2 separate regions of the Homo sapiens genome follow, and region 2 is linked to region 1. The links come from fine-mapping of genetic effects on gene expression. Tissue or cell type: monocytes after Pam3CSK4. Region 1 holds a variant in brackets; the other region holds the start of a gene. All regions are shown on one strand. Distances are between the middles of the regions.

Region 1 (2,755 bases):
TGGAAGTTGACCTTGTGGACCACCTGTGGCCTCTCCAAGGATGGCTATGGAGGATGGCAGGACTTGGTCTGCCTTGGAGGCAGTCGTGCCCAGGAGCAGGTGGGTGCTAGCAGATTACATGGGGCCTAGGGAAAGGAGGCTCGTGGGGCCATATACATGGCTTTGTATTGAAAATCCTGTGGCTTCTCCCCACCTTAGTGACAAGGACGGCCTTTCCCACCCCACAGGAGTGCTGTGAGTGTTCAGAGACATGGTGTAGGTGGGCGCTCAGTTGGGGCGCCTGGGCCAGGTCACATGTAGTCAGTGTTAGCTGCCGTCCTCATGTTCTGCAGGCATTGGGAAGCCTTATTCCACTGCCTGTAAAATTCAGACCCCTCTGCGTGGCTTTCCCAGCTCTCTGCATCACTCACTCACTCTATTTTTCTAGTCCTTTTTCCTATGCTCTGGCCACCCTGTACCAATGACTGCATATGCCCAGGCCTTCTGCCACTGGGCCTTGTCTACACCTGGCTGTAGACGTGGACACCTTTTCTGTGTCCACACGTCCTAGTCTAGCTAGAACCTTCACAACTCATCCTGCCACGTTTCTTTGGAAAGCCTCCCTCCCACCCCAGCTTGAAGTCCCCTCCCTCTCTCTCTCTTTTGTATCACAACAAGGCGTGGTCAGGCCGTCCATGGGCTTCTTGGGACAGCCCATCCTGCATGTGATGAGGCGCGTCACTTTGTCTCCTGACAGCCAGGACTGTGTTTTATCGTCTCTGGATTTCCAGCGCTTGGCATCAGGGCATTCAAGGGTATTCTGTCCACAAGCATTTCTTGAGTCCCTACTCTGCTGGGCAGTCACGTCCCGGTCTCCTGGTGTACAGCCTCCAGCAGGTGTTGGCCACCGTGGGCTGTGCAGGGCAGCTTCAAGTGGGGCAATCTTGGGATCAAATCCTGGCTTGGAAACCTTAGCTGGCTGGTCTCAGCTGGGAGTTTCACCTCTCTGGCCTCATGTTCCTCATTTGCAAACAGGGACGGTACTCTGTGTATCCCTGTCATGGGTGGCCCACACAGGCCTCTGGACAGGGCAGGCATTGGTGAGAGGCTTGGGGTGGGGCTGAG[C/T]GCAGTCTGCAGGTGGGTCTGGCTGCTCAAGAGGGCAGACCTGAGCAGCCTTGGCCAGGCTGCAGGCTGGGGTCAAGGTGGTCCCAACCCAAGTATTGGGTGGCCATGGCCACTAAAGTGTCTGAAGGGTGGCTGGAGGAGGCATCTCAGTGGCTGGCCTGATGGGCATCGGGCTCTCAGTCCTGACCCCAGGGCCCAGTCACTGTGCCTCCAGCCTCTGGGAGTCCAGAGCAGCAACACTCATGTATCAGGAAGGTCTGATGAACAGCAGTGGCACGATCTTGGCTCACTGCAGCCTCGACCTCCTGGGCTCAAGTGACCCTGCCACCTCAGTCCCCCAAGTAGCTGGGACTACAGGCACGTGCCACCATGTCTAGCTAATTTTTGTATTTTTTGTAGAGATGGGGTTTCACTATGTTGCCCAGGCTGGTCTCGAACTCCTGAGCTTAGGCATTCGGCCCACCTCGGCCTCCCAAAGTGCTGGGATTACAGGCGTGATGAACCACCATGCCCAGCTAATGAACAGTCCTTACTGCTCTGATGGCAAGCTCCCATCCTGCCCTCCATCCTCACCTGGGGCTCTGCAAGGTGTGTTCCCCAAGATGCACTGAACCTGGGGCACATAGGGCTCCCCAGGATGCAGTGAGCCTGGGGAGGCTGGGTCTTTGGCCTGCAGCGGAGCTTCAGGCCGGCCACACTTTCAGCCCACCCAGCTGGCTGCTCTGAGGCATGGAGCTCTACAGCAGGCTCTGCCCTGGAGAGCTTATGCCATAATGGCCACTTAGTCCTGGCATGGGGCTCAGGGGAGTGTCACTTTGTCTCCTGACAGCCAGGGCTGTGTTTTATCATCTCTGGATTTCCAATACCCAACACTTGGCATCAAGGGCATTCAAGGGTATTCTGTCCACAAGCTTTTTTTTTTTTTTTTTGAGACAGAGTTTCGCTCTTGTTGCCCAGGCTGGAGTGCAATGGCGCAATCTCGGCTCACCACAGCCTCCGCCTCCCAGGTTCAAGCGATTCTCCTACCTCAGCCTCCCTAGTAAGCGGGACTACAGGCATGCACCACCACACACAGGCTAATTTTTTGTATTTTTAGTTGAGACGGGGTTTCTCCATGTTGGTCAGGCTAGTCTCGAACTCCCAACCTCAGGTGATCCGCCCACCTCGGCCTCCCAAAGTGCTGGGATTATAGGCATGAACCACCGCGGCTGGCCCCCAAGCATTTCTTGAGTTACTTCTCTGCCAGGCAGTGATGCCCCGGTCTCCTGGTGTACAGCCCCCAGCACGTGTTGGCCAACGTGGGCTGCTCCAGCCCTGGGCTCATGGGGGCCCAGTCTGGAGAGCAGATAGGCCAGAGACATGCTGTCACTCTGCTGGGGTAAGCACAGAGCTGGTGGTGGCCCCGGCACCCTCTAGGGCATGATAAAGGCACTCAGCCTGGAGCTTGGGGACAGCTTCCTAGAACAGGTGGCACTGCCCAGCTGCAGCTGGAGGAGAGAAGAGAGCAGGATGGAGAGGGGAGCTGGGGCTCACAGACACTTCCCAGTGAGGGCCCCCAGAGCACCTCCACTGTGAGCAGAGCAATGGCTTGTGGCACTAGCAGCACCAGGCTTGTCTAGAGCGGTGGCCTCTTCATATCAGATCATTTCTC
Region 2 (2,500 bases), 26 kb after region 1:
GCGTGATGGCTCATGCGTGTAATCCCAGCACTTTGGGAGGCCAAGGCGGGAGGATCGCTTGACCCCAGGAGTTTGAGACCAGCCTGGGCAACATAGGGAGACGTCCTCCCATGTCCCTACAAAAAAAAAAATTTAAAAACTGGCCGGGCGCGGTGGCTCACGCCTGTAACCCTAACACTTTGGGAAGCCGAGGCGGGCGGATCATTTGAGGTCAGGAGTTCCAGACCAGCCTGGCCAGCATGGTGAAACCCCGTCTCTACTAAAAATGCCAAAAAAAAAAAAAAAAAAATTAGCCGGGTGTGGTGGGCGCCTGTAGTCCCAGCCACTCGGGAGGCTGAGGCAGGAGAATCGCTTGAACTCGGGAGGCGGAGGTTGCAGAGAGTCAAGATCGCGCCACTGCACTCCAGCCTGGGTGACAGAGCAAGACCTTGTCTCAGAAAAAAAGAAAAAAGAAAGACAAAGAAAGCAGCAGCCTTGATTTGAGAGGGAGGCCCCCAGTGGGGCTTGAGGGCGGGACTACGGAAGGCAGGGGATGGAAGCAAGAAAAGGCAGGTTCCGTGGGAAAAGCGAATTAAGGGCGTAGGATTTGGAAGCGGGGCTTGGAGGATGTGGGTCTGAAATGAAAGGGGGGACTAAGGGAGTAGGGAAGTGGGGCTCTTAGGCGGTGAGCCTGAGGGGACAGGGGCTCTCCTAAATGAGAGACCAATGGGAGGGAGCTGGGCTCTTGGAAGGCGGGGTCGAAGGGAGCGAGGTACTGGCCTGTGGAGTAAAGGAGCCGCGAGGTGAGTGCGGCGGGGGTCCGGCGGGTGACGTACAACATCTCACCTGTCTTCGGCGTCGCGGCTTCAGCCTTCGTGTCTGGTCGGCTCCCGGAACTGCCCCCGGTGCGCCTGCGGCCACCGGGATCCCCGAAAAGCCCTAGCCGGGCGCTCAGGCCGCTGCCTTGGCAACGGCGTCGGACGCCGCGGTGCCCGCGGGGAGGGGCGGGAAGCGCGTCACGGCGAGGGGACGGTCCCGGAAGTGCGCCAGTCGTACCTTCGCGGCCGCAACTCGCTCGGCCGCCGCCATCTTGCGAGCTCGTCGTACTGACCGAGCGGGGAGGCTGTCTTGAGGCGGCACCGCTCACCGACACCGAGGCGGACTGGCAGCCCTGAGCGTCGCAGTCATGCCGGCCGGACCCGTGCAGGCGGTGCCCCCGCCGCCGCCCGTGCCCACGGAGCCCAAACAGGTACCTCTCCCCCGCCCCTCAGCCTGCAGCCGGAGGGTTGGCCTGGGCGCTCCTTACTCGCACAGGAATAAGCGGCCGGCCGCTATGAAGGGCTTGGAGGGACTGCAAGTCCCAAGAGGCTGCGCGCTTCCCGCGCTATGGTGGTGTTCTGGTAGCGAAATGAGCCACCCTGAACGGGATTCTCTAAGTGGTCCGCGGAGCAGCCCCGTCGGCACGAGCCGGGAGCTTCTTAGAAATGTGGAGTCTCCGCCGTAGATCTTTTAAATAGGAATCTACATTTGAACAAAATCCTAAGGTGATTGATTTATAAGTGCGAGAGGCGCTGATCCAGCCCATCCTCTGATCTTATGTAGCAGTTGGGGCCGCCGGCCACAGCCTTTCCCCAGTAATGGCTAATTTCCCAGCCTGCACGGTACATCTTTGGATGTTAATTCTCAGCATCTATTTCGGTGTCTGCCCCAAGCCAGACACCGTGCCAGGCTCCCACATTACCGGAATGAATGGGGCATGGTCCCTGCCTAGGGAGCTCACAGGCTAACGAGAAGACAGACATATGAGAATGCTCACCAAATGTTTGTTGTCCCAATGGCCATCGATGATACAGTGCCAGCCCGCCCTTAATAAAGCTCTCCAATCTCGAATGTGCACAAACCATTGTAGTATGGTGTGATATGCCCTGTGATAGAAGTTTCAGGTACAAATCTAATGAACATTGTTTGCTGGGCTAGAAGGGATATTAAGGTAGGGAAGCCCACAAGAGTGAGAGGTAAATTTCTTTTAGAAGAAGGAATAGGAGTTTGCCAGGTAGGTGACTAGGGAAGGGAAATAGCATCCTTTATTCATCCAGCAAATATTTATTGAACACATACGCTGATCATTGCTTTGGGTTCAGAATAAGGGGGGCGGGGGGGGGGAACATGACTGAAGAAGCCATGCCTTTTCCACAAATATTTAAGTGCCCGTGTGTCCCTGGCATTTTCCCAGGCATTGGGGGAAAATAAGGTAATAGCCAGATAATATGCGCAAAGACACCGAGGTGAATCAAACGGTGTCTCTGATCAAGAGTAAATGAACAAGTGTTGAAGCATAGACTTAGGAGCGTAGTGGCAGGAGATGCGATTCTTACTTAGGATTTGAACTTTTCCTTGTAGACAGTGGGAAGAAAAGGGAGTGTTTTAAGCCAAATAGTGACATTTGTGTTTCAGAAATTCAGGTAGGCAGACGTGTGGAGAATCACTATGAGGGGAGGCCAGTCACGCTATTCCAAAGAGG

Which allele goes with the higher level. Alleles are on the strand shown, and positions count from the first base shown. SD is a standard deviation of normalised expression in the study named.
With allele C in place of T in region 1, the expression in monocytes after Pam3CSK4 of the gene that starts at base 951 in region 2 is lower (moderate effect, 0.71 SD a copy in Quach 2016).

The links. PIP is the estimated chance that this variant, and not a neighbour inherited with it, causes the effect.
Region 2: CCDC157 starts here. The variant in region 1 is fine-mapped to the expression of CCDC157 in monocytes after Pam3CSK4 (Quach 2016, PIP 0.95).

The regions. Positions count from the first base shown.
Region 1 is chr22:30,381,683-30,384,437 of GRCh38, reverse strand. It overlaps RNF215 (ring finger protein 215), which reads left to right. Exons shown (of 9, transcript NM_001017981.2): 5 at 1-99. Among named protein-coding and RNA genes, the nearest start is that of RNF215, 4.4 kb to the left of the region's middle. The variant C/T (reference allele first, on the strand shown) is at 1,105.
Region 2 is chr22:30,355,458-30,357,957 of GRCh38, reverse strand. CCDC157 (coiled-coil domain containing 157) reads right to left here and starts at 951. Exons shown (of 12, transcript NM_001017437.5): 1 at 826-951. SF3A1 (splicing factor 3a subunit 1) reads left to right here and starts at 1,064. Exons shown (of 16, transcript NM_005877.6): 1 at 1,064-1,228. The coding sequence starts at 1,166. RefSeq lists an enhancer at 1-182 and a silencer at 1,118-1,367.